Homo sapiens: one gene and its partner. The protein of the gene in region 2 purifies or fractionates together with the protein of the main gene of each other region. This does not show direct contact. Each region holds a gene or a part of one and is shown on either strand. Other genes may lie near its edges. The genes, in order: KLHL18 and CFH.

Region 1 (11,701 bases), on a different chromosome or scaffold from region 2:
CCAAGACAGCCCTCTAAACCCAGTAACATCAAAGCAAGGAAGTGGTCCAGAGCAGACACACAAGGAAGGACAGCTGACTGCAGTCAAAGCAAAAAAGCTACTCATGGTTGGGGACACGGAGCAATGAGTCACTCAAACATAGGAAGCTGCAAAGTATCCAAGGAGCAAAAGTGGGGATGGTGGGAGGAAAGGACTCTCAATGCGTTCTTGGGAGGGGCAGATCTTACGTATTTTTTTCTTCCCAAAGGAACCTACTCCGATGCTTTGTGAACTGGTCTCACCAGTACAAAGGCAGATCCCTCCCAGCTCACATCCACATGCAAACGCTGCTGGATGTGGAACAACATTAGGCATATATCAAGGAAGCTCAATGTGTAAAAGCAATCAGTGCAGAGCTGTCCTGGGTAACGGCCAGGGGGCTCTGGGCAGCTTTCCTCTCCCCTCCTTGGGCTGCGCCAGCTTTTCAGCTGCCCACACATGTGATGACTCCATCACGTGTCTGACATAATGAAACATGCCACCTGTCACCTCAGCAGTAAGAAGGGCTAAACAAAGGCACTGGGATGTCTTCTAATCCCACTTCTTATTCAGACAATATAAGCAGAGAAGTGGAGAGAGCAGGTAGCTAGAATGTACTGAGTGACATATCAACTTGGCCCACCTTGCAAATACCTATGTGCTCCTGTCTGGGAGAATGTGTGTGACCTAAATAAAAGAACATTGCTTTGGTTCGTATTCTCCCCAGGTAGTGGAAGTGCATGTGTGAGGGGAGTCCTGGGGAAGGAAGGTACACAGAAAAACACCTTGGATTTCCTTTTATCACTAATAAAGGTAAATCCTCCTTATTCTTCAAGTTTCAACTTTAATCCCACCTCTTCCCTGAAATCTTCCAGAAGTTCCAGTCCAGTTTCTCTCCCTCTTCGAATCTTCCATAATACACATTTCCAGTCCTTATCTGGCACTTAAAATAACAACACAACTTCCACATGTCCATGCCTGGTCTCCCCAAGTTCCCCAAAGGACAAGGTGGATATTTTACTTTTAAGCAGATGGGGGCTCGCTCCCAGGAGGTACTGGCAGTGGCTGGCCTGGCTGCAGGAAACTCCCAGGCCAAAGCTTGTATTTTACTCTACTGTGTGCCCCTGCTCGTCTAGCATGGCGCTCCCCAGGTGCTCAGTGTGTATGTTCGGGCTGCACGTGGCTTCCAGAATACCTTCTCTTGCTATTCATGCTCCCCACTCTGGTCCATGTGTCTGTCTCCGGGTTGTAGGCCTCCACAGTGCTCAGCCGTAGCTGGCCGTCATATCCTCCGATGGCATAGAGAAGCCCGTTCACCACAGCCACGCCAACGCGGCTGCGGGCTGTTGTCATGGGACGGCATCTCTCCCAGCAATTGGCAATGGGGTCGAACACTTCCACCACATTCAGGGAATCACCTGCATAAAAATTTGCTACTCAAATTAAAACAAATGAGACCACTTGTTTAGAGCACAGCTATTGGGCATTGATTATATGGAACATTCGACTCAATTCTATTAGCTCTTCCCACAGAATTACTCAAGGCACAAGGGCCCACTAAGAAATTTCAGCCATGATCACCTCAAACCTAATTCTTTAAGGAAAATCAGAATCAGACAGGAGGTATTTATTTTTTAGAGAGGGTAGTTTTCAGTTACAATCAGGTACTCCACCTGCTTAAAGCCAAAGGTATAGGTGAATCGATACAATATTTCCTCCAGGCAGGAGGCATGCCAGAGGGACGGGCATGCGCTCCAGTGCTTTCATTTGCTAGGGGGTGACCCAAGGCAAGGGGCTTTGTGTCCCCACCCTCTGCTTCACATGTGAAATGGAGATAATCTTTATGGATTAAATGATATAACAGGTAAAGCACCTAGCATGGTTCTAGAATAAACTTTGCGCTCAATAAATAGTCATAGTAGCAAGGAATGATCATTCCAGCCCTACCTTTTTCATCAGGTTTTTGTGATGATCAAACAAAATAACCCCCTCTTCCTGTGGTATGCTGCTATGGGGCACTTAGCATTTCATTTGCACGCCGCTCCAGCGTGCACTGAGTTGAGGATTTACCTGTTCCAGGCCCTCTGATTAACAAGCAGCAGCTAGTACCCAACTCTCATTAACCTTCAATTAAAAACAAAACTGGGCCAGGTGCGGTGGCTCACACCTGTAATCCCAGCACTTTGGGAGGCCAAGGTGGGCAGATCACTTGAGGTCAGGAACTCAAAACCAGCCTGGCCAACATGGTGAAACCCCATCTCTACTAAAAATAGAAAAATTAGCTGGGCGTGGTAGCATGAGCTTGTAGTCTCAGCTACTCAGGAGGCTAAGGCGGGAGAATTGCTTGAACCCGGGAGGCAGAGGTTGCAGTGAGCTGAGATTGCGCCACTGCACTCCAGCCTGAGTGACAAGAGTGACACTCCATCTCAAAAAAATTAAAAACAATAAAAAATAAAAACAAAACTGCCTGGGAGTGCCCACCAACTGCCCCCAAGTTGGGAGGCCATGCAGCTTTCTGAAAACCTTACTCTTAGATTCAAAAACTGCCAATAACCCACGGACTGTAAAGCATGTGTGTGTTTCACAGGGGGTGGGGCTGAAGAGTAAAAAGTATTATTGACAGTGGTAGACCCTGTGTATTTGGATAATCTTTCTCTTGGGGACTTTCTCAGTCTAACCCCAGAGATCCATATGACAAAATGTGAATAGCCTGGTATGGAACTGGGTCTCTGACTGTATCCTATCCGGGGCTGAAGGATGCTATACCATAGCCAATGTGATATTAGGGCAAAAGTGCTGGCTCAGGAATCAGAACACCCAAGTTCTAGTCCTTGCTCTGCCAAAAACAATTGTATGAACATAGTGAAAGTTCTGTGGGGCTCAATTTCCTCACTTGTCAGGTAAGAAGGCTAGGCCTCAAAGATTTCTAGAAGGTCTCTTTAGCACTGATATTCTGATTCAATGGCATGAATATGTGACATGCTCTAACTGTAGAGCAATTGTATAAAATCAAGAGGGGCAAGGGTGGTGACAGTACAAAACAGAGAAACCAGAAGGGCCAGGCTAATTTGTCTGGTGCTTCCTCATCCATGGAGTCCAAGAGGAGGGTCTATAAAGGGGAGCCGCAAGGTACCTGCTGAGTTGAGGCCCCCTACAGCGTAGATAAGTCCAGCGATGGATGTGCAGCAGCGTGGCCGGGTTCTGAAAGCTGGCAGGTGGGGCCGGCGCTCTGGCATGAGGTGGTAGTCCTTTGCTTCGTCTACCAGGTCCCTAGAATAAGGTGGAAGATGCTAGAACAGGAGGTATCCCCCTGACTTAGTCCTCGTTTGCATCTCTGAGCCTGGCTCTCCACTGCCAACTGCAGGGGAAACCTGGGAGGAGAAGCCTTCTGGAAGGTCTGGTCTCAAAGAAACCAGGTGAGTTCTGGGAAAATCATACATGGCTACTGAGATATACTCAAAATTAAAGGGGCAAGACAAGCAAAGACCACCTCAGCTAGTGTAGATTAGGCATGAGAAAAACAAGGTAGTGGCCAAAATGGCTGGACCTGGGAGTTTCGACAAGCAGCATGCACCCTGTTGCCACTCAGACCTAGCCCTTCCTTTCCATCCCTACGACTGCACCGTGGCTTGCAACCTGCAATTAATCACCACTCATCTCCACGGTGGCAGCTCCTGACACATTTCCCTGCCTCAGGCCTGCCCCTCCATTCCACTTCCACACTAGAGTTCAAGCTAAGAACCTTCAATAGCCACCCACTGCCGACAGAATAAAGTCCAAACTCCTCAACAGCACCCTTGAGACCGCTGGTCACTGGGCCCTAGCTACCTCCAGACACTACTCCACCCCATCCTGACACACACCTTCACACCATCTGCCATGGACAGGCACTTACTTCCTCCTGAACCAGCTGATCCCAACCAGGAGTTGGAAAATGAAAGAAAGCTGAATGTGTGTAAAGTTTTTATCAGCAAAGGAGAAAAAAATATTTCAGGGTTGTGAATTTGATAAGCAATCTGGAGGAGAATGAACATTTTTCTCTGCTGTTCTACTTTTACAGCAATCATCCTATAGGGCTGCCATCTTCTGAACTGTTTGGGTAACTCTGCTGTACCATGTTGTCATTGATTTGCTCTGGGTAAAAGTTTCATGTGTTGGTAAACATGTCTGCCCCTTGCCCATCATCGTAGATGTAAAGCCTACACCTGGCAGAGGCCCTCCATGCCCACAGCACTGACTAATATTTACTGAAGAGGGCAATGAGCCCCAGGAAGTCCCATTTGCGCCACTGAGTGAGCTGCTGGTGTGGACAGGGTCAGAGCAGGCAGTAAAGATGGTTGCACATTCATAAATAGCTCAGTGGGGAAAGATGCTGGAAAATCCTCAGATAACTCAGCAGGGGAAAGCCCTTTCTGCTTTGATGCTCCCACATGGCACATCTCTCTGCCCAAGGCATAAGATTCGGGCTCTTCACACTTCCTGTTCCAGCTTCTAGACAGAGGGCAGACCAATCTGTGTGCCATGAATTAGACTGATCACTCTAAATGCTTTCTTTCCAGAACTGGAACAGGTGGCCAACTCCTCTTCCCTGCTTAGACCTTTGGCAGTGTCCTGTGCAGGTCCACCCTCACTCACCTGCATTTGTGGCAGCAACGCACCAGGTCATCCTGCTGTACTCTGTCTGAAAGGAACTGGGGCCGACAGAGGGGCAGGCGGATATTGGACAGCAGCTCAGGCAGGTAGGGACCCCTCTGCTCCCGGTCGTATCTGACCCAGGCCAATGCAGCTTCAAAGACCTGTCATGAGAGTGGATGTTCTGGCAGCAAATCCTCCCACCCAGAGGCCACACCCCAGGCCTCCAATCTCAATGCCTCCACTTCCTATACTGAAGCAGTCCCTTGGGCCCATCAATCTTTTCTCCTACTTGTCTCTGAAATCCCTGATTTCTCTCTACTTCCTAGGCTACTAGAACAGCTTCCTGAATTTCATTATGATTATGATTTCCTAGTGAAAAATCATCAATGGCATCTTATTACTTTCTGTGAAAACAAAATGCCTGTTTCCCTTCCCGCTGCTCCTGTACCCCTGCTCCCTCTAAACTCCCTCCATCACCCTCTCTGTACTCCGGCAAGGCTGGGCTGGTTCTCCTGTTTACACTGTCCCCCCTCATCTAAAATGCCCTCATCTCCTCCTCTTCATCTAAACCCACTCCCCTATTTTTAAGGCCTGGCTCTAGATCCATGTTCTCCAAGGAGCCTTTCTTAATGGCTCCAACCACAAGGACCTCTCCCTCTAAAGCCCTACAGCCCTTATGAAATGTATCACTCAAAGAAATGTGAGCTGCCCCCCCGCCCCCCGTCATATTAATTAGTTTAAGAGCTAGGGACAGGACACCTAGTTTTTGGAATGAGGCTTTTTCCTCGAAACCACAGTGTCTATGCTGCCAAGCCCAGGATCCACTTTTCTCCCAGGCTCCTATCAAGCCCGCTTCACCTCTCTAGCATCCCCCTTTTCTAGAGGAAAGAGGAAAATAAATCATACCTTTTAATCCCTCCTCAAATTTCTTTTTTCTTTTCTTTCTTTCTTTCTTTTTTTTTGGAGATAGGGTCTTGCCCCATCGCCCAGGCTGGAGTGCAGTGGCGCAATCTCAGCTCACCTCAACCTCTGCCTCCCAGCTCAAGCAATCCTCCCACCTCAGCCCAAGTAGCTGGGATTACAGGCCAGGAGTTTAAGCTGGACCAGGCCTGGCTAACTTCTGTGCTTTTAGTAGAGATGGGGTTTTGCCATGTTGCCCAGGCTGGTCTCAAACTCCTGAGCTCAACAAATCTGCCCACCTTGGCCTCCCAAAGTGCTGGGATTACAGGCGTGAGCCACTGCTCCCGGCCTTCCTTAAGTTTCTAACCTTCGTCCCTCATCCTCACTCTCAGGTGAGAAAATAGAAAATCAGAAGAGAATTTCAGTAAGAATCTACCTGTCCCCCGTCCCTGGGCGTGTGCCCCAGCTCTCCCTCCTGCTACTGTGGATATGGATGGCTTGTGCTCCTATCAAAGATGCACACCCTTATGCCCTAGACTGTCCTCACTTATTCCAGAACATCATTCCAACAACTGCTCTCCCATTTCTCCAATATTATCAATTCTTCCCTCTCTTCTGGAAAACTCCCAACAGCAGTCAAATATGCTGTAATTTCTCTCACTTTAAAAAAAAAAAAAAAAGGTCGGGCCTGGCGCAGTGGCTCACGCCTGTAATCCCAGCACTTTGGGAGGCCGAGGTGGGCAGATCATCTGAGGTCAGGAGTTCGAGAACAGCCTGGCCAACATAGTGAAACCCCGTCTCTACTAAAAATACAAAAGTTAGCCAGGCATGATGGCGCACACCTGTAATCCCAGCTACTTGGGAAGCTGAGGCAGGAGAAATGCTTGAACCTGGGAGGCTGAGGCTGCAGTGAGCTGAGATTGTGCCATCGCACTCCAGCCTGGGTGACAGAGTGAGACTCTGTCTCACAAAAAAAAAAAAAAAAAAAAAAAGGCCTGGCATGATGGCTCATGCTTATAATCCCAGCACTTTGGGAGGCCAAGGTGAGAGGATCATGTGAGGCCAGAGTTCAAGACCAGCCTGGCCAACGTGGTGAAACCCCATCTCTACTAAAAATATAAAAATTAGCCAGGCATGGTAGCGGGCACCTGTAATCCCAGCTACTTGGGAGGCTGAAGCAGGAGAATTGCTTGAACCCGGGAGGCAGAGGTGCAGTGAGCTGAGATTGTTGCCACTGCACTCCAGCCTGCCTGGGCGTTGGAGCAAGATTCTTTCTCAAAAACAAACAAACAACAACCCCTCTTGATTTCACAGACCCCTCCCACAGCTGCCCCAATGTTCTGTTCTTCCTTAGAACAAGATTCTTTCAAAAAGTTATCTATACTAGGCCGGGCACAGTGGCTCACGCCTGTAAACCCAGCACTTTGGGAGGCCAAGATGGGCGGGTCACTTGAGGTCAGGAATTCGAGACCAGCCTCGCCAACATGGTGAAACCCCGTCTCTACTGAAAGTATAAAAATTAGCCTGGCATGGTGGTGCATGCCTGTAATCCCAGCTACTCAAGGAGGTTGATGCGGGAGAATTGCTTGAACCTGGGAGATGGAGGTTGCAGTGAGCCAAGATCGCACCACTGCACTCCAGCTTGGGTGACAGAATGAGACTCTGACTCAAAAAAACAACAAAAAAATTATCTATGCTTGCTGTTTCTGGTTCACAGGAGGATTATTTCTAATAGTAAATATTGGAAATAACCCAAACATGCAAGAATAAGGTGAGTAGGTTGACAAAAATCAACAGAATGCTATTTAGACACTAAAATGTATGGAGGCCAGGTGCGGTGGCTCACGCCTATAATCCCAGCACTTTGGGAGGCTGAACTCACTTAAGGACAGTAGTTCAAGACTAGCCTGGGCAACATGGTGAAACCCGGTCTCTACAAAAAATACAAAAACTAGCTGGGTGTGGTGGTATGTGCCTGTAGTTCCAGCTACTCGGGAGGCTGATGTGGGAGGATGAGGCTGCAGTAAGCTATGATCTTGCTACTGCACTCCAGCCTAGGTGACAGAGCAAGATATTATCTCAAAAAAATAAATAAAACATAGAAAGTTTTCATGAAAAATGCATGATACAGTAAAACAAGCCCAATAATATACAACAGCCACATACATGTCATGATCTTAACTTTGTAAAAAAATACATAAACAAAACAATGACTATAAAGAGCAGCATCTCATGTCACCTGCACAGACTGCTACTGGGCTCACATACCTGCTCCTCAGATTTGACATTCAGCTCATCCCGAGACACCAGCTCAAGCACGTCTTCCAAGGGCAGGGCCAGGAACTCTTCTGACATGGACACCTCCACAAAGTGCTGGTGGATGAAGCTGTTGGCAGCGTCGTACAGCACAGCACACATCATTGTCTCAGCAAACTGGCGCACACCCAGGCAGTTTTTTGGGTGAAGCCTTTGGCATAAGGAAAGAAAAAAAAAATTAGAGGAAGAAAGGATGTTATCTTTGATCATTCTCAGGCTGGTTCTGGGTAGAGCCACAGAATGAAAACAAATTCTTAACCTCAGCTTTGTTGGAAACTGTATTTCTCTGGGACTCAACTTCTAAAGGTATAAAATTAAGAAGAAAGATTATCCTCAAAGGTCCCTGCCTTTTGGGCCTGGTGCTCTGTGCGTCAGGTGGAATGAGCTCTCTGGGTAGTTCTGTAAAGTAACTGTCAGAAGGTGAGAAGTAACCATCACAGGAGTGCAGGCACTGAAAATCTGTTTGAGACGTTCCACCACTGAAATTCCTGGTTGAGTGTCCAGGGCATTATCTCAACTTTGGTCACAAGGAAGGCACTGAAGTCACAGAATTAGAGTTTAAAAAACACAGACAGGGCTGGACACGGTGGCTCACGCCTGTAATCCCAGCACTTTGGGAGGCTGAGGCAGGCAGATCACGAGGTCACGAGATCAAGACCATCCTGGCTGACACGGTGAAACCCCGTCTCTACTAAAAATACAAAAAATTAGCCGGGTGTGGTGGCGGGCGCCTGTAGTCCCAGCTACTTGGGAGGCTGAGGCAGGAGAATGCTGTGAACCCAGGAGGCGGAGCTTGCAGTGAGCCGAGACTGCGCCACTGCACTCCAGCCTGGGCGACAGAGCAAGACTCCGTCTCAAAACAAAAAACAAAAAACAAACAAAACAACAACAAAAAAAACACAACACGGACAGATGGCTTCTTTAGTATGGGAACTCTTATACTTGTCTTTTTTTTTCCTTTTTTTTCTTTTTTGAGACAGGGTCTCACTTTGTCCCCCAGGCTGGAGTGCAGTAGCGTGAACACGGCTCACATCACCCTTGACTTCCTGGGCTCAAGCGATCCTCCTGCCTCAGCCCTGCAAGTAGCTGGGACTACAGGTGCCACCATGCCTGGCTAATTTTTGTACTTTTTGTGGTAGAGACAGGGATTCACCATGTTGTCCAGGCAGGTTTGAACTCCTGAACTCCAGCAACCCACCTGCCTCGGCCTCCCAAAATGCTGAGATTTTTTCTTGTTTTAGATAGAAAGAGACTCCACGGGCCTAATTGTTCAGACAAGCAGAAACAACAGCAGCAGCTATCATTTATTTACCATCAGTGAGTCAAGTGTTTTGCTAGGCCTTTTATACACATTCTCCAGAATCTTCTTAACCTGTAAAGTAGTAACGCACTCACAGATGGAAAACAGGCTCAGGGAAACCAAAAATGGTGCTCACAGTCCCTTGAGATAAGCAAGTGGTGGTGCTGAGATTGAAATCAGGACTCTTGTGCACATTCCCACGGTAGCCTGGCAGACTTACACTCATCAGGGCTAGAGAAACCCAGGATAAATCCTGGCCCTGATGCTCATGGGGCAACTTGGGTGGGTTATGTTCTTCCAAGTGTCAGTAATTTGCTCACCTGAAAGAAGATGATGACAACAGCTACCCACCTCTTAGGGCTGAGCCATGATACATGGTACCTGGTATGAAGTTAATGGCTGTCTTAATTTTTTATTATGGTTGTTTTTGTTTTTTGAGACAAGGTCTTATTCTGTCACCTAGGCTGTAGTGTAGTGGTGCAATTATGGCTCATGATAGCCTTGACCTCTTGAGCTCAAGTGATCCTCCTACCTCAACCTGCCAAGTAGCTGAAACCACACACCTAGCTAATTAAAAAAAAAAAAAAAAAGTGTTTTTTGGTAGAGAAAGCATCTCCCTATGTTGCCCAGACTGGTCTCAAACTCCTAGGCTCGAGCAATCCTCCTGCCTTGGCCTCCCAAAGTGCTGGGATTACAGGCATGAGCCACTGTGCCCAGCTTGTTTTTCTTACTACTGTTGCATCTAAGAAAATTCCAAACGAGCCCAGTGCGATTCTAAAATCTTGGTGACAGCAGCAGACCCTGGGGGATTCTTATTTGGCTCCATGACTGATTCTCTGTAGGGATGGTATTGATCAGATTAAAAATTGGCCGGGCATGCTTTTCTTCATTAGAAAGGTTTATGTCTTTTCCCCGACGTTAAGGTTTTAGGCACAGGGTTATATTTATTTAGCAATATTCACTATTGTCCCCTAGCAGTTGACCCATCAAGGACTGAATGAATGGGCAAGGTACCTTGGAGCCTGGCTTTATGACTAGTCAAAATTCTACATAGTTATTTCATTCCAGCCTGAGCTTGCTCTGTCCATTGCTTTGGAAACTGATGTGAATTTAGAAGAGCACAGAAACATAAGCAGAGAGCAAGATGTAGGCAAAGTTCATGGCCACTGAGGAATACAGCGCTGAAGGTCAGAATGTCAGCTCAGTCATCTGTCAAATGCCTTTCTCCTAAAGCACTTATAGTGATTGAATGAGACTTGTTAAAGCACTTTACAAATATAAGGCAGATATAAAGATAAACCTTCCCTGGGCCTCTACAGCATGTGCTTCACTATTTCCTAACACTTTGACATCAACCTGAGAGGAGGATTCAAAATGCCACGGGGCAGAAGCTGGATCAAGTCCAAGGATATGGGAGCCAATGATCAACGTAGCCATTGGCATTCATTTCCAAACTCTCCTTCTCAGGTTAGGATTCTCGTACCTTATTTTTGGGTGTCTTTGATTAGCTTGGCATAATACTGAGCACAAAACACACCTTTTTTTTTCCCTTTTGTTTTTTTTGAGACGGAGTCTCCTGGTGTTGCCGAGGCTAGAGTGCAGCGGCATGATCTCAGCTCACTGCAACCTCTGCCTCCTGGGTTCAAGTGATTCTCCTGGCTCAGCCTCCCAAGTAGCTGGGATTACAGGCGTGCGCCACCACGGCCGGCTCATTTTTGTATTTTTAGTAGAGATGGCATTTCACCATGTTGGCCAGGCTGGTCTCCAACTACTGACCTCAGGCGATCTGCCTGCCTCGGCCTCCAAAAGTGCCAGGATAACAAGCGTGAGCCACCACGCCCGGCCAAAACACACCTTCCTTTTTTTTTTTCTTTTTTTTTGAGATGTAGCTTCGCTCTTGTTGCCCAGGCTGGAGTGCAATGGCACGATCTCGGCTCACCGCAACCTCCACTTCCCAGGTTCAAGCGATTCTCCTGCCTCACCCTCCCGAGTAGCTGGGATTACAGGTGCCTGCAACCATAGCCAGCTAAGTTTTTTGTATTTTTAGTAGAGATGGGGTTTCACTATGTTGGCCAGGCTGGTCTCGAACTCCCGACCTCAGGTGATCCACCCTGCCTCGGCCTCCCAGAGTGTTGGGATTACAGGCGTGAGTCAACGTACCCAGCCAAAACACACCTTCTTAACTGAACTGGGCTTTTACATCCAAGAGGATGGGGGACGTGGGGAGCCTGTTTGTGAGGCAATTAGTGGGGGAAAAGGAAGGAGAGCGGCCACACAGGAAAGGGGCCCATGCAAGAGGAGGAGGGAGATATGAGGGAAAATAAACCTACAGCTACAGGGTTGATGGAGACCCACGTCTTTCATTAGCCACATCACAACCTTCTTCCTTGCTGACACAGCTTGACTTTGGAAGCAAGAAGACAGCATAAGACATAATGCTTTATCAGAGGCAGGAAGCGGTGACTTGAATTAAACAGGTTACTGACGTGGTTCATTGACGCATTTGGTGTACCAATCTACCTCTGAGAGAAT
Region 2 (11,736 bases):
TTATTTTATAAATAACATGAGAATAAAGATCATTTCAGAAGTAACATATATACCTTTGTAAACAGAGTAAAGAATTGTTTAAAGAAACAAACTCTAGAGACAAAGCAGAATAGAGATTATGTCACACTTAATAGGCATTTGAGAAAGAAAAAGAAAAAAGAAAAGAAAAAAATTTAGCTAGGTGTGGGAGGCTGAGGCAGGAGGATTGCTTGAGCCCAGGTGTTGGAAGCTGCAGTGAACTATGATCGCACCACTGCACTCCAGCGTGGGCACTCCAGCCTCAGGCAACAAAGCGAGATCCTGTCTCAAAACAAACAAACAAACAAACAAACAACTTAACAGTGAAAAGAGCAAGAAGAAAATTCCAGAACCATAAAAAGCAGATAGGAGAATAGACGATAGTCACATGAAGTTGGATAGAATAACAAGTATGTCATAATTAGAGATAAAACAAGATACTATCAGAACATGGGTTGAAATTCCACAACTTTCTTGAAATGTGTATTTGAATAGCTAATTTCTAATGCCAGTTATTGTTCCAGTCACAAAAAACGAACTCAGCCACAAAGAGACAGTACAATTAGGACCCTGAAAATAGAGAAAAAAAAAAAAAAACGCAACACACATTGTACCAAGTATTACTAAGTAGTACTTGTGGAAGTTAAAGTGATGGAAAAATGAATGAGCGAAAGAACAGATGAGTAACAATGAAACTATCTGGAAGCCTTTCCATTATATCTGTAGATTATGGACAGCCTGTGGAAAAAGCGTAGTAGACAGTAGTGACTAGAAAATATAAGAGAAGACAAGGTGATAACTGTTTAGTGCACTTAAAACTCTGTTGCAAGAACCCAGGAAACTCTAACATTTGTAATTCCATTGTACATCTGACCTATGTGTCCTAAGCTTAAATTTATGTTACAGTTCAGGAGTTTCTGAAAGAATATTGCTTTTTCCTTTTCTTTCTTTCTTTCTTTCTTTTTTTTTTTTTTCTTTTTGAGATGGAATCTCCCTCTGTCGCCCAAGCTGAAGGGCAATGGCATGATCTCAGCTCACTGCAACCTCCGCCTCCCTGATTCAAGCAATTCTCCTGCCTCAGCCTCCTGAGTAGCTGAGATTACAGGCACGCGCCACCACGCCTGGCTAATTTTTGTATTTTTAGTAGAGATGGGGTTTCACCATTTTGGTCAGGCTGGTCTCGAACTCCTGACATGGTGATCCACCCACCTGGGCCTCCCAAAGTGTTGGGATTACAGGTGTGAGCCACCATGCCCGGCCTGGAAGAATAATCACTTTTCTATCTATTACATTTCCAGTTAACAAGGTTTATGAAAAACTTGGCTAAGTTAAAATGTCAGAAGAAATAAAAGTGTTCTGTCAAATGTTTTTTCTTTCCTTTTTATTGTTTCATTTTTTGATGTTCAGTTACTTTATTTCCTCTGAGCTATCTTTTTATGACTCCTTATAATTTTAAGCTAAAATGCAATACTTTTTTGTCAATTACATCATCCCCTTTCCATGTACTATGGTTTTGTGAAGAAATGGGTAAAGTACACGTTAGTTAACTGAGCACGGGATAGATTGGGTGGCAGAATCTCAAAGGCCTAGGCAGGTGGGGGATGGTGTGTGTGGGGAGGAGGAGAAGGCATAACTGGGAAGAATGAAAAGTGGCAAAAGACTGCAGAATAAACAATCGAGGATTAAGCAAATAAAAGTGGGTCAATGTAGACTGGCTCAGATCTTAGAAACCAAAGGCCACACATGAAGAACATTTACCAATCTGCTTTTGAACTTATATTTGGGAACTTACTTCTACCTAAGAATAATTTTAGTTAGCAATACTTAGATATTTCATTTTTAGTTTAAATTATATGTAGGCAAAAGAGTAGCATATGCATTCCCAGGATATGCCTAAATTTAAAATAAGCAAAGCTTGCCTTGGCAGACGTCTCAGGCTCGTGCCATTTCTGTGGGCATTTTCTCTACCCCTTCTCTTATAGCACTCACTATAGCACTTCAACCAGCAGATCTGTCCTACCTGGGAAAACCCCATCTTCCAGAATCACTTTGTTCTATTCTTATCCTCATCAACATCCATTTCTACCCTCCCCCGCCCACTGAAATTGTTTCAGGGAAGTTGTCAGATGATAATAATTCAAAGTAAATTATGAATAATACTAAATTTAACTATCCTAAAATATGTATTCAGTGTATTTGTCATTCCATGTAAATGACAGATTGGTTGAAATTATAGTAATATTAATATCAACACGTAAAGTATTTTAGGAGGAGATGAGATATTGAAGCCAATTGGGCCATCGCACAATTTAAATCACACCATATAGATAAATACACATACTACTATCTCTGAAAATATGGGGGTTTGGGGGAGCAAAGGGGAATTCTTATTTATCACACTGAAATTCAAACATACAATTTAGGATTTTAGACCACTATTCTCCTTTCTCTGACTGTAATGGAATCCATCAATCTCTGATCTATAAAGTCTTCTGGGACCTGAAATAACGTTTCTGCACTCTAAATCTCCAGGATTAAAAAACATGTCTCCCAAACAACACAGCCAGTATTTACTTGAACATGTTTCAGTAGAGTTTTAATTTATTCACTTTAATCATCTTGGAATTTCTGGGCTGTGGCCTAATTTCATATAGTACACAATTGTTAGACCCTAAATCTAAAAAATCTGCTTGGTCATAATATATTCAAAACCTTGGTCATACTATATTTCAAAAAGGTGAAATTAGGTGGTACGATTGAGAAACTGTTATTTTAAACTTTGTCCTGTAAATCTGACCCAATTCTTAGTAGCCTGCAGTGACCCCCTGAGCCAGACTGTTAAAACAAGGAGGCAATTAACGTTCCTACACAATTGGAAATGTTATTGTAGACAATATATTGCATTAGAAAGGTTCTATGTAGTACCCAATATATTAAAAAAAGAAAACAAATAGAAAGCTGAAATTACAAATTATTCCTGCTGGCTATAATTCTTTCTTAGTAATGAATAGTGTTTTTTTTGAAGAAAGTTCACTCTTAACAGAGCAGAAGTAATGCTAAAATGTTATGCTGTTGAATAAAGCAGATTGTGATAGTATTCAAACTATCTTCTCAATTTGGTATTCAGTATTCAATGTGGAAAATATAAACAGAAGCAAATATTGAAATATATGTGAGTATTTTTCATGATCAAAGCTACTCTGTTAAGTAAAAATTTTTTAGATATGGTAGATTAATAGAACTGATGGACATCTCGAACTAGTTTAGTTTCAGAGAGTATTTGGGAAACAAGGAATAAATTAGGAGTCTGATATCCACTGAAAATTCATGTAGTTTTTCTCCATTGGCTTTTGCATTACATGTGCTTTTATGAAAATTATGAGGCTGGCCTAAGCATTGCTTTAAATACAAAGTTGTGCTTTATCTTTTAGGAAATAATCAGATTTATATCATTTTCACCATAACATATATAGTGCCGATGTTCAATTCACCAGTAGAAACTGATACCACATTTAAACACACATTGATGAAAAATAAAATAAAAGTGAAACAAGTCAGCAATAATCAATTATGTAAATAAGATGTTTAAATCACTATTGTTTAATTATCACATATACTTTGATGTACTCTATTTTAATAATATTTCAAATTCAACTTTTTAATAACTTAAACTGTTTATTAAACTTGCCATTGATTCTTGATTTTAAAGATTAGAAATAAAACAAATCTCCCTTATATGACAAATGGTATCTATGTAAAACTGGAGCAAACAGTATGTAGGTATGAAACGTTAGAAACATTCCCATAAATTTAGTAAGAAAAGACAGAAATATTTACACAAAGAAACAGAAAAAGATGTCTTTTACAATAGGTAATATTGACATTGTTCTGGAACTGTTTGTAAATACAAAAAGGTTTCATTTTAAAATACTAATTATAATATTTATATGTACAAGGAAATAATTGTTTTCTTCATTTAAAAAGTGGCTACATATAAAGTTTACAAGCCAAAGAACAAGCAATAACATTAGAAAATATAACTGAAAATAATTCAACCTTTCAAAAGGTATTAAACATATTTGAATATTTTTTAAATTACCAAAGTGTATAACTATAAGAATATATCTGCTTTTATTTTCTAGATTGGAAGACTGAAACAGAGATTTGTATTATTTGCTAATATTCTTCAGTTCCTAGAGGCTATGTAATGGTCACTCAATCAAAATTTCTTTACTAAGTGAAAAGATTTTAGAAATTATGAATAATATGTAATTCATTCAGTTTAAAAATGTTTACCAAATATCTATCACATAACTGGTTACCTATCAAAAACTAGGAAAGCAAACCTCCTCCAAGAATAAGCTTTTTAATCTATCAAGAAGCAGTGATATAATTAAATTTTATTATGAATCCAGAAATTGTCTTACTGAGGTCAGAAAAAAACTCCTACATTCATATTCACTACTCCAAAAGACTGCTCTTCAAGAATATATGTTATATACAACTACAGGAAAAAAATCTCTATTGAACAACTTAACTGTTACAAATATTGTATATTCAATTGGGTTTCAAATTTATATAATATTTTTATTCTGATAATACAAGTAATACTTGTCTACAAGAATTCTAAGGTCATGACAATATCAGTTGTAAATGATAAATGAATTTTTATTTAGGAAGAGTTAAAATCATATTTGAAATAAATCTAATCATTATGATTTGATGGCTTTTATTGACTATGTATATTCACATCCTTCTTAATGCTTTCACATAATACATTTTGGTTATACTCCTAAGCAAAAAAGTAAATTACATTTTATGATAATTACAAGGGAAATGATTATTCCAGATCATAGTTTTTCAGAAATGTTTATTAAAACATTTTATTCTATTTTATATTAAATATAATTATGATGAATATTTAGATATACCATTCAAATAAGGTTCTTACATTTTTTAAACTCAACAATGTCAAAAGCCACTCAATTGTCAAGTTACAGAATACTTAAGCACATTTTCTAAATCAAATTTTTATTACTCCTGTGAAAAGCATCATTAGCAAATGTTTCATAATACAGTTTTCAGAAAAGAGTCTCTTTTAATCTTACCTTCTGCTACACAAATAGCCCATAACATAAGGCAAATAATCTTTGCTAGAAGTCTCATTTTTTGGATCTTTTAAGAGGACATTTACCAGCTAACTCTGTTCACAACGTCCAGTTCTCCTCTTCCAAGAATTGTGATTAGTGCAGGAAAGAACTTGCTGCAAAAGGAAGTTGAAACTAGATGCTCCGCCTATCAGAAACTTTTGCAAAGTAAATAAAAAATCAACCACAAGCCACAAGCCCAGAAATGCCAGAAGTTAAACCCAATTCTCACTGCACTCCCACTAAATGTTAATGCTGTGACCGGCTCTTGGACTTTTTCTTATTAAGCTAGGGAAATTCTCCGTTGGAAAATGTTCATGTTCTTGGTATGTGCAAATCAGCAGCTGGTGATATCCTCTGGATTTCATAAACCCTTCAATTATTCAAACTCTATTCGGGTCTATTGTGTATAAACCTCAGAACAGGAAATAAGAGAAACTTTAAAAGAAATCACATACAAAACTTTGGTTTAGGCAATGTTTTCACAATCAGCACCCAGACAATGTGTACAAACTTTGCCAAGAATGCAGTGCTTGATGAATTTGGGGGTCTGCTTTTCTAGCAATTTATGAAATTAGTTTTCTAAATACTTTTTGTATATGTGTATGAAGCAACTGGCTCACTCTCATTTGACGTAAATAGGTTTAATAATCCAAAAATCAACAAATTGAAATGCTGATTTTTAAAACTTTGTATTGTAGTGTAATATGTATAAGGAAAACATAAATCATATGCTGGATATTGAGAAGGTAAAGATACCTGTGAAACCACCACCAAGGTCAAAACACTGAACATTATTACATCCCAGAAAACCCCAGTACTCCTTTTCAGTCAATACGCCTCTCAACCCTCTCCCACACCCCCCACACACAGAGACCACGATTCTGATCTTCAAGAACATGGAATATATTTGTCTGGCTTTTGTACTTTGTATAATGAAAAAGAAGCAGTTTATTCTTATGTTTAGAGTTTTTCACCAAAAATTGTGTTTGGACCATTCAAACACATTGTTAGATGTAGTTACAGATAGTTCATTCTTATTGCGATTTAATACTCCACTTTTTGAATAGTTCACATTTTATTTATCTGTGTGCCTGTTAGTGAGCATTTGAGCAGATTTTAGTTTGGAGCTGGTATGAATAGTGCTGCTATGGGCCTTATATTATGAGGTTTTTGGTAAACACAATCCACATTTCTGGTAAGTGCATACTTGGTAGTGAAACACTGGGACATAATTTATGTTTAGGTGTAATGGATAAAATTAGACAATTTTCCAAATGGATTATAACACTTGACATCACTTGACATTTCTATCAGCAGTGTCCAAGTTGCTCCATACCCTCAGAGATACTTGGTAATTTTAATCCTTGTAATTTTAGCTTTTCTGGTAACACAAAGCAATAATTCTCCGTGGTTATAATATGAATTTTCCTGATGACTAATTGAAATGTGAGAGATCCCTGATTCCCCTTGAAGGACATGCAACAGGTGTGCGGCTTGCCAGTTAGGTCGCCCTGCAGCTCAAACCCCTTACGGGGAGGGGGAGCACACAGATGCACCGGTGCGGGAACCGGAGTGAGCGCTTTCGGGCTCTGGCCTCACAGCAGCATCTAGGGGTGGGTGTCTGCGATTTCCGAAGCCCAAGTGGGCGTATGTTACAGTGTGCTCCTTTAGCTTTGCCATCTGCAAATGGTTTATGTGTTAATCAGCTCAACAAACCCTCTTCCTTATCTCATGGGTAGTGGGACAGTGAAATAGCCCTCTATATCCCCAGCTGTTGCCCAGTGTCCCAAAAGAATCGGATCACACGGGGGCTCGAGGGATGAGGGCAACTTTTTATTGAGTGGTGGAGGTGGCTGTCAGCAAGATGGAGTGGGAAGGTGACCTTCGCCCAGTGTCAGGCCTCCCAGTGGCCAGACTCTTCTCCACCCGTCCCTGGCCAAACTCCCCTCGGAGTCCAGATGTCCCTCCTCTCTTTCTCTGCTGTGTCATTCTGCCATCGCAGGCCTGTTTGTCGGCTTGCCTCTCCGTCTCCTCACTTGTAGGTCTCTTCTGGAGCTTGGAGTTTGGGATTTATATGGGGGTACGACAGCGGGGCATGGCGGGCCAAAAGGCAACTTTTTGGGTGTGAAACCTGAAATGCCTGTCCTCATTTAGGGCCACAGGTCTTCAGGCTTGAGGGTGGGGCCTTTGCTTGGGGACCACCCTCTTCTACCCAGTATTTCCCTGTCTCCTGCCCTTAACATGAAGTTGAGAAACTTTCCTGTGGTAACTGGTCATTTAGATACCCTCTTTGGTAAAGGTTCTATTCAAATCCTTTGCATATTTTTTTCTTATTGAGTTGTTTGTCTTTGACTTATTGGAGTGTAGGAACTGTTTATATATAATTACTTATATATTCTAGATATGAAAATAATCTTATTAATATGTATTATAAATACCTTCTTCCAGTCTGTGGGTTTTCTTTCTATTCAGTATTACATGTCTTTTATAATAATAAAAAGAATTCCTTAATTTTAAAATAGAGCAAATTTTCAATTTTTTTCTATGACTAGTGCATTATGTGTCCTATTTAATGAAAGCTTGCCTAGTCCTAGAACACAATGCTTTTCTTCTAAAAGAATTATTTTATCTTTCACATTTAAGACCTTTAGAACAACTGTAATTGTCTTTTGTGTATAGCATAATAAAAAGCTCCAGATGCATTTTTAAAATAGAGATATCCAATTGTTATAGCATTATTCAACGAAAGTATCATTCTTTCCTCTGTACTGACATGCTTTCACCTTTGTCATAAGTCAGGTGCTGGATATGTGTGGGTCTATATCACCAAGCTCTTCTTACTGTAATAGTTTATTTTTAAAACTTTTCTAAAGTGTAAATTTCTGGGAACTTTGGCTTTCTAGTTATCTTTTAAATTGATTTCTTTTTTAATTTCATATTCTAAATAATTACACTGTTTTAAAATTTGATGAGTCTTTCTTTATGGCCCATTATAGTCAAAATTCTACCTATGTCAGTAGGTCAAGTTTGTAATTTGTTAAAATCTTTTGTATTTTTATTATGTTTTTGTCTGATTATTCCATCAGATATTGAAAGGGTGTATTACATCTCCCATTATAAATGTGGATTTGTGTATTTCCCTGTTTAATGCTGTGAATCTTTATATATTTTAGGGCTATGATGATGCTTGCATACGTATTTAGAATTGTGATATCCTTCTTTTGCATTGGTCATTTTCTCATATTAAATGGCCCACCCTAACTCTAATTTTGCTTCCAATGTGAATTTTACATTTTATTTTATTTTTATTTTTATTTTTGTAATAAAAATATAAGGAATAAGAGTTAGACTTAGTCATTTGTTCTGAGAAAAATAAGAAATAAAATAGCATGGATATATGAATAATCAAGCAAATTCGAATTCTGAACTATCATTCTGAAGTTTAATTTGATTTAACTGATAACACATATGTTGACATACTAGATCATTTAAACTTCTTCTTTATTCCTTCCTTAGTTTTATCTGTTTGAGTATGAATCCAAACATTTTACCTGGGGCTTAAATTTCCAATAGTGGTTTCTATTCTAATAGCAATATTATCACTTGGAGAGTATTCCAGAAACTTACTAAGATTAATATTATTGAGTGTTAATTATATACCAGGCACAGATCTAAGCACATTTATTCAATACTTAATGCAACACAATGAAATGGGAGACTATTACTCTTTCAAAGGTATAGATGACTGAACTGAACCACAGAACATTTTAGCAACTCCCTTAAGGTCACAAGACATTGCTGGAGCCAGGTATCAAATCCAGTGGTCTGTGTTTAAAATATGTGTTTAAAAATATAGTAAAATATTCACATATGTACTCTAGTGTATGCTTCACATTTATTTATTTTACAATTATGCATATACTGTAAAAGTATTGAAGGTACACACACACATATATATGTTTGTGGATAATTTAAAGTACATACAGGAATGATTTTGCTATACAAATCTTCACCTAATTTGCAATTGTTGAATGTAAAATGCCACTCTACTATCCAAGTAGAAATAATCCTCTTGAATTAATTTCAACAAATATCTTTCAGATGTATTATTTTTACTATTTTTTCTTTATCCTACCTTTTTTCAAAGACTGATGGCTAACGTCAATTGAGTGTTTTTGTTTCCCTTTTTTCATCAATACTTTTCAAAACTACAAAAGTCTATTATAAAGAAATTCAGAACATAAGAAAATTAGCAACATATTATGCCTTAAACTCATAAAATTATTATGTAGTATTAGATTACCATTAGAAAGACCAGATAGTAAATAGTTAACTATTAATACTAAGATTAAACATGAAATGGATCCAATTTATTTTCAATATTCATGTTGGCACATTCTCAGCAAATACATACTATGTATATTTGGACATTAAAAATTTAGAAGAGTAAGGATATAAATTTGTATTAGAGAAAAATCCATATTTAAAAAATTAGAAATAGTTAATATCTATGCTAAGTAACAAATGACTGTTATGATTAAAATTTTCGAAGGAAGTTTACAAGAAAGAGAAATTACTGAACACTGGTTTTGATCAGGGATGATTTTAAGAACACTTGGATATTACACTGTAGTTTAAGGGAAGAGTACCACTGAGACTGTGAAGAATAGGAAAGTGTGGGGACTAATCTAGAATTAATGAGAAGACTCACATTGGAGCAGTGGTTTTGCACAAGGAAATTGTGGAAGAAGTAAAAGGAGCTTTAAATGAGGAATGGTTTGAATTCCAGATCAAAAACTTGCAAATTATTTTACAGGCAATAAAGAATCTTTGATAGATCTAATTGAGGAAGAAATGTAAGTCATGCATTATTTAAGTAATGGTGCTTTGGCGGTTGTATTAAAATAGATGGAGGAAAAAGGACTCAGAGAAATGACAAATTAAATAAATTACTGAATGAATTCATAATACAACTATTACACAGCATCTCAATGTAAAGAAAAAGGGTAAAAACTAATATTTATAACAGAGCTTGATTTTTCTATGAAGCTAATGAAGTCTAAGCTTCAGGGCTCCTAATTTGAACAGACACCATCAAGGACCTGAGCTGGCCCTTAATAACGTTTCTGCATGGTCATCTATTTTTGTAAAAAATTGAAGAGAATTAATCTCTTAATTGCAAGAGAATGAACGGCTGTCTCTCTTATTCTATGCTGATTTCCCCTTCATTGCATTTCCACTGATTCAGTTGACATTACAGTTTCAGGCATTTGAAGGATGCAAGAAAAAGTTACACATAGAATGCTATTAGTTTGAGATTTATGTGGTATATTTTACAGTCTCAATTAAATATAATTTGATAACTGATGGTCCTCCAAGTGTAAGAATGGCTTCCAGGAATACTCCTACCACCCCTGTGCCAAATCAATTTGCATCATAACACAAAACTTCAGTGTCTGAAGACAGCACATATGAATATGCCCGACACCAGAAGTCTATGTGTAGTGAAGGAGAAACAAGATTAAAAAGTATAAAGACTATGATCAGCTGTGTAAAATTTTAAGTGGATGATTCCATTCTCATTGATTCTTCTCCTAGTAAAAATGAAAACTTGCTCAAGTCATTCACAATATATTGGCATCAATAACAATACCATAAAATTTACAACGCACCTTTGAAATGAAGACATTGAGGTCAAACTAGTTTTCAATGTTTCAATTTAAAGAACATTTAATATTAATTATATCATTAGAACTCTTTTAATGTCCTGAAACCTTGGAGCTTATTATGTCAGGGAAATCTGACAGGATTTTTTCCGAAATTTGATGACAATCTTAAAAATGTTTAGACATAAGTGGTGAACTTGAAATGACTTCAAATATTTCCACATAACAAGAAACAAATTTAAATCAAACATACTAAAAGAAAGACTGAATTATTTTTTCTATTTTATGTACACTGAAAATATTATAAAATGGTGTCATATGAAGGAAAAGTCAAAAAAGTATTCAACAAAAACGTAGAAATTCAAGGTAACAAAGACTTTATCACACAATGACTATACCTACTATATTTTGTGTTTCTATGATATTTCATTGTGGTTTTAATTTGCATTTCCCTAATAGTTATTGATGTTGAGTATTTTTTTCATGAACCTGCTAGTTATTTGTATGTTTTCTTTTGAGAAATGTCTGATCAGTTCCTTTGCCCATTTTTAAATTATGTTATTTGTTTTCTTGCTATTGAGTTGTTTAGAGTTCCTTATATATTTTGGACATTAACTCCTTATCAAGTGTATGGTTTACAAATGTTTTCTCCCATTCCATAGGCTTTCTCTTCATTCTGTTATTTGTTTCCATAGCTGTACAGAAGCTCTTTAGTTTGATGAAATCCCATTTGTCTATTTTCACTTTTGTTGCCTGTGCTTTCAGAGACACTAAAAAAATAAAAATAAAAATAAATTGCAATATTGTGGAGATTTTAACTCATTTCTTCTAGTAATTTTACAGTTTTTTGTCTTTAATCCATTTTGAGTTGATTTTTGTATCTAGTGTAAGATAAAGATCCA

The links.
Region 1: the proteins of CFH (region 2) and KLHL18 purify together in Homo sapiens (affinity purification with mass spectrometry; 2 studies listed by BioGRID and IntAct, with this or other methods). This does not show direct contact.

What each region holds. Positions count from the first base shown.
Region 1 is NC_000003.12:47,326,270-47,337,970, reverse strand, and holds part of KLHL18 (kelch-like protein 18), read right to left. Parts: intron 8,021-11,701; coding exon 7,822-8,020; intron 4,815-7,821; coding exon 4,654-4,814; intron 3,289-4,653; coding exon 3,152-3,288; intron 1,452-3,151; coding exon of another isoform or gene 1,437-1,451; coding exon 1,214-1,436; intron 1-1,213. UniProt on the Homo sapiens protein: Substrate-specific adapter of a BCR (BTB-CUL3-RBX1) E3 ubiquitin-protein ligase complex required for mitotic progression and cytokinesis.
Region 2 is NC_000001.11:196,645,566-196,657,301, reverse strand, and holds the start of CFH (complement factor H isoform a precursor), read right to left. Parts: upstream 5,260-11,736; 5' UTR 5,185-5,259; coding exon 5,127-5,184; intron 1-5,126. UniProt on the Homo sapiens protein: Glycoprotein that plays an essential role in maintaining a well-balanced immune response by modulating complement activation.